Homo sapiens: one gene and its partners. The protein of the gene in region 2 interacts with the protein of the main gene of each other region in a biochemical or structural test. Each region holds a gene or a part of one and is shown on either strand. Other genes may lie near its edges.

Region 1 (2,761 bases), on a different chromosome or scaffold from region 2:
CCCTCTGCCAAGCTCCCAGGTATCTTGAGCCATTCAGCACACTTTGTTCTGATTCTCACACTCAGGCCCTTCTCCCCCCATAGTGTGTGAGCACCTTGATGCCAGAGACCATCTTCCTCTCATCTTTGCAGCCTCAGTACCAAGGGCCATTATAAGCACAGCGCAGATTTCATGGAGTGGCTGAATGATTTGTTTGCTGTGTGATCACCTGTACTGAGTCAATATCGGTCACCTTTGGTCATGAGCATGCCCCTTGACCCAGATTCCTGCAGGAGCCTGCATATAGGGGCCCTGCTTGCTGGGACTGGGGATGGGGGTGGGGTGGGGAGTTCAAGGGAAGGCAAGGTCTAGGATATAAATCCCAAGGGCGTGGGCTCAGCAGGGCCCGTTCTCATGCTTTCTGGCCCGGGAGGAGTGATTCTCCATCTGGCAGGCCCAGCTGCAGTGCTGGGACAGGGACATGAGCAGAGGCCACAGGAGGAGAGAGGGAGGTTGTGGGGGGAGCTCGGGGAAGCCCATGGTAACCCGGGGGGAGGAAAAACAGCCACACAGTGTTATTGTTACAGAACCATTAAATACAACTTATACACAAGCAAGCTGGGCGGCGTCCGGGGGGCAGGGAGAGTGCAAGAGGGTCAGGGGTGAGCAGTCCGGGCCCGGTCCTGGAGGGGGCTGAGGCTGCCGTCGTGGGAGGGGCTTGGCTGGCGGAGGCCGGGCTGCCTGTGGAGGCCTTGAAGCTTTGCCAGCAGCTCCTGGATGAAGTCCTGAGACAGGGTGGGGGAGCTGAGAACATGGGAACAGTGCGGGGGCACCCTCTGCCCCTGTCCAGCCCAGTCCCTGACCTGGGCGCCTCCTCCTGTTCTCTGATTGTGGGGTGGGGGGAGTTAGGGGCGGAGGCTATAGACATAGAGAGAAAAGTGAGCCGGGAGAAAGACAGAGATGGGGAAAGGGCGATGGGAGGGATGGAGAGAAAGAGCTAGGAAGAGAGATAGAGATCCAAGGAGACAGATACGGAGTGGGGGAGGGGGAGAAACAGACACAGAAACAGAGAGACATGTAGAGATAGAGACAGAGAGAGACATAAGGACAGAGAAAGAAACAGAGACATGTGGAGACAGGTCCCCAGAGATAGATCCAGGGCGAACAGAAATGCAATGACGTTTGTCCCTAGAGCTAGTTGGAGAAACATGAATAGTTTTCCCTTTTAAAGCAGGGAAGGAAGTGGGAGGGGTTGGGCCGCTCAGCTTCAGGGCCTGGGAGGATGGAGGGCCCCCAGAGGTGGGGAAGGGAGCCCGGGGTGGCGGAGGCAGTGACAGGGGAGGACAGAGGGAGACTGAGCCCGAAGGCTGGTGGCCAAAGGACAGGCACAGGAGAGGCAAAAACAGGGCAGATGGGGGAGGACAGAATGGAGCCCCCTCAGCAGATGGGGGAGAGAGGGAGAGAGACAAGTAGGAGGACAAAAGACACCCCTGGAGACCAGAAAGAGCTGCGGAGGGCAGGTTGGGGCCGGGGGTGGTGGGGCCGGGTGGTGTTCCCCAGAGACCCTTCTGCCAGCTTCTTCCCCCTCCCCCATCAGAGTACTTGGGGCCAGAACAGGGAGAGAATGAGGGAGAGAAAACTCACCTCGACAGGTTTCCCACATGACTTCAGGAGTCCCTAAAACCCCCAACCAAGAACAAAACAAAACAGTAAATGACTAACACCTACTCCCCTCCAGCCCCTTCCCTTTCCCAAAAGGCCCCAGCAGCAAGACAAATGGAAGTCAGACTCCAGGGTGGACTGCCCACCAAGCTTCAAGAGAGGAACAGAGCCCAAGGGGCATGTGGATCGACTCAGGGCAGGGGTGAGTTACTAGATCCAGAGAGGGCGAGAGGGTCACACAGCACTTCCCTCCTCTAAAAAGGTATAAGCCATAAGCAAAGACATGGCTGCCAAACTGCCTGGGTTCGATGCCCAGCTCTGCTCCTTCTGAGCTGTGTGACACTGGGCAAGGGATTCAACCTCTCTGGGCCTCATTTTCCTCATGGGGAAAATGGAGCTCACACTAGCGCCTGCTTCGGAGGGTTTTGTGAGGGTTAAGTGAGTGAATACATGTAAAGCCATCACACCAGTGCCCGGCATCTAGTGAGCACTCAGTAAACACGTGAACTATTGCTATTATTTTTAGGGAGGTGCAAAGTGGGAGGCTGGGGGACACGTCCCCCCACCTACCTGGATTTTCCGGCTTCTCTCCTCTTCACTCTCTAACTCCAACAATTCATCAATGTTGATCTCATCGGGCATGTCTGCCTCCTAGGGCCAGGGAGGGAGGGGTGCTTAGGATCCCCTTCCCTCCCTCCCTCGCCTTTGTCCAGGGCTCTGCAGGAGCCCCACCGGCCCCAGGGCCCAGCTGGCGGGTTCTGGAGCATTAATGTGGCAGTCCGGGACAGCACTGCCAAGACGGGACATCTGGGTGTTGGGGGGGAGGGGTGACAGATGGGCTGAGAGAGCCCCGGGGCCCTGTACCAGCCCGATGCCTGGGCCCATGGGCCCCGGGAGCCTCGGGGCTGGCACGGGTCTCTCGCCTTGGCTCTAGTTCCCACAGAGGAAAACAGGCCTAGTGGAGTCCTGGAATGTCAGATTCTGGGATTCGGGAGAGGAGCTGGCTTCTGCCCTTTCAAGGAAAAGTCTTAGCACTAGGTGCAGGGGAGGAGAGGCTGGCAGCCAGCAGCCAGCTGGGGCGGCCCCTTCCCCCAGGGGACAGGAAGGGAGGGGACAGGAA
Region 2 (7,123 bases):
GACTTTTTCAATTTCTCTGTCATTTGTCATCTCTTTCAGAATATATTATTATCCCAGCAGAAACAAAATTAAGAGAGCTGAAGGTCCATCACAGGATACAGGATCTCTGTGTGTTGTGACAGTAGGAATGGCAGAGTGTCAGTGTGGAGTTAAGGAAGTGGGAGGGAGTTCTTTTGTCTTTTATTTCAGTTTTTTTTTGGAAGTACCTTATGAGGACGTCAGCTATGAGGAAGGATGACAGGAGTTTGGGGATTGGATGTTTCAGGAGAGAGCAGAGGGTTTGAAATCATTTACAATTTACTATGTGGGCTGAAGTCGTGTGGAACTTACAGCAGAAGGTTCTCCTGATCTTTCTGAGTCTTCCACATCTGTTGTTTTAAATGTGTTAAGAAGTTTTTCATTCACTTTGTTCAGGAGCTCCCTAAGTACTAACATAGATCATACGAGCATTGGAAATATTAGCTGACAGTTTCAGTAACATCACAGGACATTTCCTTTGGGATGAGCAACTGAGGTGTACAAGGCTGCATAAGTTTCCCTGAGAAACTCACCTGTAAATTATTATTGTTATTATTTAGAATTTAGAGTATAGTTGTTCTCTAATTATGTAGCAGACACGATTGTACTTGAAACATTGTGATGGTAATTCAACAAAAAATACTTATTTTAAGATAACGTACCCTAAGTATATACTGACTTATATAAGTAAAGAATTATTTCTTTCATCTTCTAGTTTAGGTGAAAAATCTAGTCTTGCTTTTTTGTATGTAACAATGTATGGCTATATAATATGTTATTCTTTCTTTTTAGAAAGTATTGATCCAGGGTTTTATTTACATTATGTTTGTTTATTTAGTTTGCAAGTGTGTGACGTTGAAGCCTGGTTGTATATAAAGATATGTATTCTGTTAGTGTACATGGTTATTGTTTTCAGGAGGGTAAAAAATAATAACAATCATTGACTTCACTTTGAAACACTGTTACTTTCTACTGTCAAAGAAACCTTGAATATGTAGACTGAGGAGGAATTGTTTTAAAGCAAGGAAAAAAATTCCAGAGGAAGAGCTAGTTTGGTTTCATAGTACATCATCTACTTATCTACCACACACACAAACACACACACATACTTTTTTTTTTTTTTTTTTTTTCCTCAAATGAGCTGTGTTACTCTTTAGGGATGCTTGATGCCATTAATATGATTGTTCATTTTGGTTATTACCTTATTAGAAAGGCAACTGATATTTTACTCTTAAATGTACTTAAATGGAGTAATAGCATTTATAAGACTCCTGGCATATAGTTTCACTTTTCAGAATCATCTTTTGGCTAAAGAAATTTAACAGTGAGATTTTAAGTAGATAGCTCACTAAAGAAGTAAGGTTAGTGCCTTGGTTTGAAAGTAGCATTACTTTGCTTGTAATTGTTTCACTTTAATTGTATTATACATTGTTTTCTTAATAGTTGTGATGTCATTTTTCTCTTTATTACTAATTTTAGATACTCCACACATTCCACATAGATTGAGAAAGCCGAAAGTAATTAGGTGCTTGATCAATCCAACTCACCTGGACCAACAAACTCCTTTTAAACTAATGATGGTCTTTGGGGCTTAGGTGTATATATTTTTATTCCAATTTTATAATTGGCTATATTATATGTCTACTGATTTCTGATTTAATGATGAAGTATAGAATTTGTCATTTTACTGTGTGTTTTTTTTTTTTTTTTTTTGACAGAATCTCACTCTCTTGCCCAGGCTGGAGTGCAGTAGCACAATTACAGCTCACTGCAGTCTTGGCCTCCAGGCTTAAGTGATCCTCTCACCTCAGCCCCTTGAGTAGCTGGGTCTACAGGTATGGGTGACCATGCCTGGCTAATTTTTAAATTTTTTGTAGAGATGGTATTTTGCCATATTGCCCAGGCTGGTCTGGAACTCCTGGGATCAAGAGGTCCTCCTACCTCGGCCTCCCAAAGTGCTGGGATTTAAGGAATCCCACTGGGTGTGAGCCACTGGGCCTGGCCTATTAAGTGATTCTTAAGTAATATAATTTTAGTACTCTAATTTTATTTTTATTATTTTATTTTTTGAGATAAGGCCCAGACTACAAGTACAGTACATAATCATAGCTCACTGCAGCCTCAAAGTCTTGGCTAATGTGATCCTCCTGCCACAGCGTCCCAAGTGTTTGGGACTACAAGTGTGTGCCACCACATCTGACTAATTTTTATAATTTTTTTATACAGACAATGTCTCACTGTGTTGCCCAGGCTGTTATTGATTTCCTGGCCTCAAGCAATCCTCCCACCTCAGCCTTCCAAAGTGCTGGGATTGCAGGCATGAGCCACTGTGCCCTGCCTGTACTTTTAAAATTTAAATTTCTTTTCAAGTTTAATAATGTAACAGGATTATATTTTGGAACTGTATATTATGTATTACAGATGTGGAATTTATATGTAGTAGATTATGTTTAACTATTTTTTAAATATATTTTTAAGAGCTTCCTTATCCTTGTATAGCCTCCAGATGTGAAGTATTGTTTTATATTTTGTGTTATAGACTGCAAAAAATGAGGCCTCATCACATATCTCACAATCCCAAAGAGAAACTCTGCTTTACATTTTTCTTTTTTTCTTTACTTTTTCTTTTTTTTTTTTTTTGAGATGGAGTCTCGCTCTGTTGCCCAGGCTGGAGTGCAGTGGTGCAATCTCGGCTCACTGCAAACTCTGCCTCCTGGGTTCACAGCATTCTCCTGCCTCAGCCTTCCAAGTAGCTGGGACTACAGGCGCCTGCCACCATGCACTGCTATTTTTTTGTATTTTTAGTAGAGATGGGGTTTCACCGTGTTATCCAGGATGGTCTCGATCTCCTGACCTCGTAATCCGCCCGCCTTGGCCTCCCAAGAGAAACTCTGCTTTATATTTTTCTATCAATTCACAGACTTATAAACCTTTTTAAAACAGGTATGTACTATTTGACAGTTTTCACAAGAATATCCTGTGAGACTGTGAAGTTAAAACCATTAAGCCTTGTAGTCCATGGGCTGGGAAGAGTTGGATGATTGGCTCATTTGATAAATACATGAATTCATTTGGGCCTTTAGATTCAGAATTGAGATCAATCTGAAAGAGTAAAAGTACACTGTGTATGGTGGTGGTGGTGGTGGGGGTTACTGGAATAAGGTTTAAAAACTTGCCCCAGAAGACCATACTTCATGACTGTGCTGTTTATTTTCACCAGATTCCTATCATAGCTTTTATGGGAGATTTATAACTTTATTTTCTAATGATTATTACCTTTTTTTGTGAGATGATTGTATATAAGTCTTCACTAATTTATTCATGAATAACTGTTACTGACCTTACTAGAGAATGCAGAACATTTGTAAGTCAATGAATGTATATTTGTGACTTATCTAAGATTACTTTGAGATTTAAAGACAATATATGTAACATACATACTGCTTTGTAAATACGTGCATAATAAATGCTGTTGTTTACTAAAGCTTAAAGCTCTATAGACTAGCATACTGTCTTATTAACAAAAGAAATTTATATTTATTATCTTATTCTTATATCAATATATAATTAAAATTATAATATTAAAAAAAGCAATATGGCTGTAAGGCCCAGGTGACATCTTTTTCCTGCCCTCTGTATCAGGGCAAATCTTAGAAGTAGTTATGTTTTGAAACAGTTTCTCAAATCTCAAACTCTCAGCATTCTTTAAGGACTAATCTAATTATTACTAAATGAAAGACACATTTGCTGATAAAAGTAAAGCATATTTTCATTGCTTTTTATTATTTTTGACAGAAAGATGATTTAACTCCTTTTCAATTACAAGTGCAATGTCAATGGTATTTCACTTCATTTTTTAAAAAGGAAATAAAATAGATAAAGGTGCAACATTTGGGAACACAATGATTCAAAATTCTGGTTCTCAAGACCAAAATTTAAAGCTTATTTGCAGATCATCGCTTGATACATGAGAAGGAAGGTGCTTGGAAATGACGTAGGGAGATTGCAATTTGCTGTCATGCTAACATCTAGAGGTTGTTTGCTAAATTGTTCCATCTGATGATAGCTAATATAACATAATTGGTTGTGCATATGCAGAAATGTCATTTTGAGATGAGAAGGCAAATTTACTGGGAAACAATTGAGTTATCAGTTTGGCAAAACCAATCACAAGTCTTTTTTAGATATTCCCACTACCTACCACTTATCTGTCATGGAAGTCCATGCCCCATTATAAAACCTTTAGAAAACCACAATCTTTAATTATTTATAAATCTTTTAAAGAAGAGTGTAATGGATAATTATATGAAACTTTGTGTGTGTGTGTGTGTGTGTGTGTGTGTGTGTGTGTGTATTAGACTGGAATCATTGAATAAGCTCTCAAACTATACCAAATAACTAGTATAATGATCAATATTGCAGGGCTGGACTCAGACTGTTAGAACTTGGTAGAATGCAGTCTTATAGGTGTTGATGGTAACATGAAGTTTCCTTCCTTGCTTTGTTTTTATATTTGTTTGCTTTGATTTATGTATCAGGGTAATCTTTGACCTCTGACCTTGCGCCATCACCTTGTTTAAGGTGAAAAATCTAAACCCAAATGTGGCAATAGAGGTAAAAATATAGGGTGTTTTTTAATAATAAAAGATACTACTCATCTTTTAATTTCCCCAGCATTACTTTAGAGTGATTTTGAAAATGAGACTTCAATTTCTTAAATCTTTCCTTATTGTTGGAATATGTTGGAACAAAACAAGACAAGTGCTTCCTTCCTTCCTTGTTTCCTTCCTTCCTTTTCTTTTCTTCTCTCTTTTCTTTTCTTTCTCCCCTTTCTTCCTTTTCTCTTTTCTTTTCTCCTTCCTTCCTTCCTTCTTTCCTTCCTTCCTTCCTTCCTTCCTTCCTTCCTTCCTTCCTTCCTTCCTTCCCTCCTTCCTTCCTACCTTCCTTCCTCTCTTTCTCTCTCTCTCTCTCTCTTTCTCAGGGTCTCACTTTAGTCACTCAGGCTGGAGTGCAGTGGCACCGTCTGAGCTCACTGCAGCCTCAACTTCCCAAGCTCAGGTGATTCTCCCACCTCAGCCTCCCGAGTAGCTGAGACTACAGATATGTGCCACCACGCCTGGATGATTTTCTGTATTTTTAGTAGAGACAGAGTTTTGCCATGTTGCCAGGATGGTCTTGAACTCCTGTGCTCAAGTGATGACCCACCTGCTTCGGCCTTCCAAAGTGCTAGGATTATAGGTATGAGCCACTGCGCTCAGCCTCATTTCCCTCTTTCTATTGATAGAATTTAGATACAAAGAAAATGGTGATTTTCCTTACAACTATTCAAAACATTTTTTAATCTATAAGAATATGAGATATTTCCCACAGGAATTCTTTTAATACTGTCAACCAAATATTTTTGTGCCATTAAAAACCAGTTGTGATAGCACCACTTGAAGTTATTTGGCAGCAGAGAAATTCACGTTGTTCTGTTTCTTACTTTTTCTGGTCTCATCTAGAAAAACAGATCATTAAATATACAGAGTGTTCAATTATATGGCCACTATGGCTGTTATGGAATATCATATAATTTAAATAGTTAAGAACTGGTACAAAAACAATGCATATTCAGACAAATTTCGGCTGTCTAAATCTACAGTTTCCTGTGTAGAAGTTTCTTCCAAAGTTATGAAAGGTTTTATTTGGCTTAAGCCAGACAATTGATATAGTAGCTTAGCAATGTTGGCAAACATGAAACTTAGATTTTAAAATATGCAATCACACAGGAATTTTGTTCAACTTATTTTGGTGAAAAGGAAAAAAATATACACCCTTCACTAGTTCATTGGCATCTATTCTGACTAAACCACTGATTGATGAGGAACTAGTGAATGTATTGCTTGTTTTTAGGCACAATTTCAGGAATTTCTGAATGCTTCTCTCCTTAATTGTCAGCAGCCACTTTTCCCCGCATATATTATAAAACAGTTGAAAAGTATTAATTTAGTAATGAAAATATGAATGAAAAGTATGAATGTGCATAATATATGGTGTTGTTGATAATTAGTTTGATTTTTTCCTACACTCAGTGTTCTTACAGTTAGGTGATTCTCTCAACCTGAGCAATTGCTCAGTGTAGGGTGAAAAGATTAAAGAGATTGCTTATTTGCAGTTATGTAAATATCCACAGTAATCATGAACATTTTTATTTTTCAGTTTGTTTGATTCCATAGCAATTCTGGTTAGGAGTGGCATGTTATACAGGCTTTTGCAAAAGTATTGACATTATTTCACACAATGTCTTGTACAGTCAGAGAGATTGGGGAGGAGAGGACTGAAGGGGCAGTTAAAAACTAGAAATAAAGAGTCAAGTGGTAAATTGAAAAGGCCAGAAAAGTGGAACATTAGATTAAAGGGTCACCACTTGTGTTACGGCAAGTATTTCAGCTACTGTGAGCAGGTGAACATTGAGATCTAATGGTTAGCACCATCTGAAAATATATTCAGAAGCTTCCTAATCAAATTGTACATATGGTACATATTTTTGGTGTCATTGGGGTCATAATAAGTGTTTTTCTTTTACATTTTTGTAAATTACTATTTGATATTTTCATAGTTCTGACTGTTTGAATTACCTGTCTCACGTTGAGTTCCCTTTGTAACACTGCAGGTGATCCTACAAGATTCTTTCTCCCTCCCCAGCATTATTAAGGTATAATTTACTAATAAAAATTATATATACTATGATATATAATGTTTTGGTACATGTATACATTGTGCAGTGATTAAATCAAGCTAATTAACATGTCCATCATCTCACAGACTTATCTTTTCTTGTGTGTGTGGTGAGAACATTTAAAATCTACAATCAGGCAATATATTTCCTGCTTTGAAAAAATCAATTTTGGGGTACTAGGCTTAGTACCTGGGTGACAAAATAATCTGTACAGCCCCCCCATGACACAAGTTTACCTATGTAACAAAACCGTACATGTACCCCAGAAACTAAAATAAAAGTTAAAAAAATCTATTTTTTACTTAAAAAATTATCTACAGGTATGTAGATTTGCTATAATCATACTCTTCAGTTCATAGCACATTTTTTTCATCAGTCCAAGTAAGG
Region 3 (4,027 bases), on a different chromosome or scaffold from region 2:
GAGAGAAGTGTGTGTGTGTGTGTGTGTGTGTGTGTGTGTGTGTGTGTGTGTGTGTGTAATATAGTGAAACAAATTTTCTATCCTGTTTTTTCATTTAGCATCGTGTTTCAAATATTTTTACATCATTTATTATTAAAGTTCAATTTTAATGAATGTCATATTGGATGGGAATCAGAATTCTTATTTAACATTTTGCAGTTGTAAATAAGACCTCAGATGTCCGGGCTTGGTGGCTTACGCCTGTAATCCCAGCACTTTGGGAGGCTGAGGCAGGCAGATCACCTGAGGTCAGGAGTTTGAGACCAGCCTGGCCAACATGGTGAAACCCCATCTCTACCAAAAATACAAAAATTAGCTGGGCATGGTGGTGCACACTTGTAATCCCAGCTACTCGGGAGGCCAAGACATGAGAATCACTTGAACCCTGGAGGCAGAGGTTGCAGTGAGCCAAGATTGTGCCACTGCATAACAGCCTGGGTGACAGAGCAAGACTCTGTCTCAAAAAACAAAACAAAACAAAAGAAAAACAACCTCAGGAAACAGTTTATAAATCTTTTTGATGCATTGTTTATTTCTTTAAGAAAGACTTATAGAGGTAGTATGACTTGGTTAAAATATACTCTTGATATCAGCAGAAGTAATAAGCAGTTGAAAATAATTGAGAGTCATATGAGCGTTAAGTAAATTGATTTTCTGAGCAACACTTGCTACTTGCTTGATTCTTTACAAAGAAAGTCAATATTTAAAAGTATCCAGCCTACTTGGCTTACATAAAGCTTAGATTTAATGATGTCCATATTTACTATTCATACATTGTGTAGCAATTATATATAATTTTCCCTTTTTGATATCTCACATGATTTTGAATGTACTTAGTTTGAGGAGGATTTAATGATATTTTTAATTAATCCTCTCAATAATGTTTGAAAATGGTTAATAGGGTATATATTTGGGCATCTTAAAACTGACCTATTCTCTTTAGGGTAATTAAAAAGTCATCAAAGGTTCAGTGACCCTGCAAGGCAGTGTACACTTGGTATGTGTGAAATACTTGGTCATTATTAAGCCAGCTTTTCTTCAAGAGAGATACACTATTTAATTAAGGAATGTAATAAATCACTCTCTATTTTATTGTTATTGGTGTTAATGCTTGGTCTTGTAACTCTGCCCTGTCCACAGGTTAAAGTATTGCACAATCAGCTGGTCCTTTTCCACAATGCCATTGCCGCTTACTTTGCTGGGAATCAGAAGCAGCTTGAACAGACACTTAAACAGTTCCATATCAAATTGAAAACCCCTGGAGTGGATGCCCCATCTTGGCTTGAAGAACAGTAAAATCACAGCGGAAAATAAAAAGAAAGTCGCGTTGTTATATTTCTAAACCAACCTAACAAGAATTAAGCAGAGTTGGGGGAAGTGGGAGGGGTGACAAGCATTATAGTGATTCTTGCACAAACAGCTTTAATTTTTCCCTTTTTCATACTTTAACAATTGAACTGTTAAGGGTGGTTTTAATGTAAACATAGTTTCTATAATCTGAACACAATAATTTTCCTTTTTGAGAAATCCTTTTGTATTGTGAGGGTTGATGGCTATTTCTGTAGTTTGAAAACATCTAATAGAGATTTGCACTGACAAGATAAAAATTCAAGGTTTTTGGTCCTGGAAATGAGGGCCGATTGTAACTTTTCCAAAGGGAGGTTTACATGATTTGTATCAACATCAGATATTTTATATGTGAATATATTAAACATCTTTAAGAGATTCATTTTCATGTATTAAAGAAAAAAGAAACTATTTTGCAGAGTAAAGTTATATGGTGTTCCTGCAGCGTCCACACAGAGGCAGCAGCTCTAATGAATGATTAGCTTGTGGAGTTGTGGCAAATACCTTTTTAAAAATGAATCTGTACCACTGTAATTTTATTTAGACTTTTTTTTAAAGACACAGAAATCACACTGTCATTTCTGTGAGGCTTTTAAGCTTATGAATTTGCTTCACCCGAAGTCATTGGACAGTTACATTTGCAATTTCTTTTGGTTCATAACAAAACCTGCTTAAGAGAATTTTTTTTTTTGACAGGTGGACGTGGGAATGGAAATTCTTAATGGTTTCTGGAGTAGAAATCTGTACTTAGAAAACTAGTTTTTGGGTCAGTTCCATTTTGATAGAAGTGAATACATAGACAGCTTTTATTGACTTCCATATGTAACAATACCGTTTAAGCCTTAAATCACAGATATGTGCCTTCTCAGATACAGTAATTCTTGTTCAACCAATGTACAAAATCCATAAAGAAACCCCTGTTGGATAATGTTTGATGTGTCTATTCCTTCCATGGAATGGAGCACTATGTATGAATGTTGGGTTTCTTTGTACTTGTTAAGCCACATTTGAGGTTTATGGTAAAAATCATCTTTTGAGTTTGCTCTTTGGTTTTTCTTCATTCCTTTTGAGGATTGGGAAAACAGAAAGATTCTTTGATTTGGGTAATGAAGAGGTAATTTGGGACAGTGTGGTGGTACCAGGAAGAAAGAGGATTGGAAAGGCCAGTACTGTTTTAGTTGCTCGGCACTGTTGGTTTTGTTTTAATGTGGTTGCCCTGTCCACTACATGGTTCTATCAGTAGTGTAATCCATTTTCAATGTAAAGCTCTTTTAGTTTTTGTCATAGACATAAATTAATATTTTGAGAGGCATCCCTCACCTGTTCATTTCTTCTGTGTTGAAATGAAGTACTTAAAATTACCGTTATACATGAACTTTGTGGACTGTAAGATTTGTTATATATGTTCAAATGCCTTTTAGCTGGCTTTTTAATTAATATGCCTGTTTTGAGTGCTTAATACAATGTAATGTGATTGTAAATCATACCTATTTTAAATCATTCCTTCCTGTATATTTGTACTCAGAGAGCCTTATTTTATTCTTCCAGCAGAATTACTACTTGTGATAGTTCATTTACATTCCCCAGAATGTGCCTCTAGTGTGAATTTTGTATTCTTATTAAACGTGTTTGCTGCAGTAAATCGTTTCTCTGGACCTTCATAGTTTAAGAAGTAACTATTTGGAAATTCTGAAGACACATAATTTGCGTTTTCTGAACCTTAAAAAAAAAGGTACTTCTGTCACTTATAATTGTTTTAGCTCAGTAAGCTATTTTTTTTCAATGTGAATCTCTTTTGAGAGCTGAACATGTCCATTCTTAACCACATTTCAATAACAGTTACTGTAGCTAAGGAGCTAAATAGTTTCATGGATTAATTTTTTTCAGAATAAATTTAAAATATCCATGATTCTGATAGTGGGCACATGACCAAAAGAAAAAAGTAAATCAATATATTTAGCCAATGGTACATTTACTTTGTTAGGAATGTAATTTATGTTCATTATAGAAAAGAATTAGAAGAAAATTTCAAGTAATAGAAGATAAGTACCTTCCCAAGTGAATAAATACTGCATGGAACCACTCAACACCTCTGAAGTTGGATATTTTAGTTTTGGATTTTAATATACAAGCTCTATTTTGAATATCCTTTAATATACATTTACATCTTTGCACTTTTACTTACTTACTCCCTTAGGTTATAGTCCTAGAAGTGAAAATGGGCCCTCAAAAGTATATACATACTTCTAAAACTTTGTAATATATTGCCTGTTTGCTTTCAAGAAAGACTGTGCCAATTTACACCTCTAAGAGCATACACATGTACCTGTTTAGTATATTTTTTAAGCCAGTGCTGTATATATAAAATGAAATAATGAAAGAGAAAAACAGGAAGATAAAGGCTGAACAATCACCAACTGGAGAGTTTGGGGATGCTGGGTGTGAGAGCAGGGAATGGATGAAAATGGCTGGCTTTTCTGTCATTAAAATAGAAGTTGTTATTCTAGAAAAAATAATGCACTGAGGAACTGGTCTGTGAAATTAAACTTTTCATCCCAAAGCTTCCAAATCTTAGGGTCCAGGAACTATCTGGGTTTGCAAAAGCAATTTAGCTGAAATCTAGGCTTTAAGAAGCATCTTT

What was found.
Region 1: the proteins of PRKD1 (region 2) and PPP1R14A form a complex in vitro, tested with the Homo sapiens proteins (one study listed by BioGRID).
Region 3: of the proteins of PRKD1 (region 2) and ARFIP1, one has a biochemical effect on the other in vitro, tested with the Homo sapiens proteins (one study listed by IntAct).

Annotation. Positions count from the first base shown.
Region 1 is NC_000019.10:38,250,683-38,253,443, forward strand, and holds the end of PPP1R14A (protein phosphatase 1 regulatory subunit 14A), read right to left. Parts: intron 2,293-2,761; coding exon 2,212-2,292; intron 1,657-2,211; coding exon 1,624-1,656; intron 765-1,623; coding exon 636-764; 3' UTR 555-635; downstream 1-554. UniProt on the Homo sapiens protein: Inhibitor of PPP1CA. Has over 1000-fold higher inhibitory activity when phosphorylated, creating a molecular switch for regulating the phosphorylation status of PPP1CA substrates and smooth muscle contraction.
Region 2 is NC_000014.9:29,917,836-29,924,958, reverse strand, and holds part of PRKD1 (serine/threonine-protein kinase D1), read left to right. Parts: intron 1-7,123.
Region 3 is NC_000004.12:152,908,885-152,912,911, forward strand, and holds the end of ARFIP1 (arfaptin-1), read left to right. Parts: intron 1-1,179; coding exon 1,180-1,335; 3' UTR 1,336-3,473; downstream 3,474-4,027. UniProt on the Homo sapiens protein: Plays a role in controlling biogenesis of secretory granules at the trans-Golgi network. Mechanistically, binds ARF-GTP at the neck of a growing secretory granule precursor and forms a protective scaffold.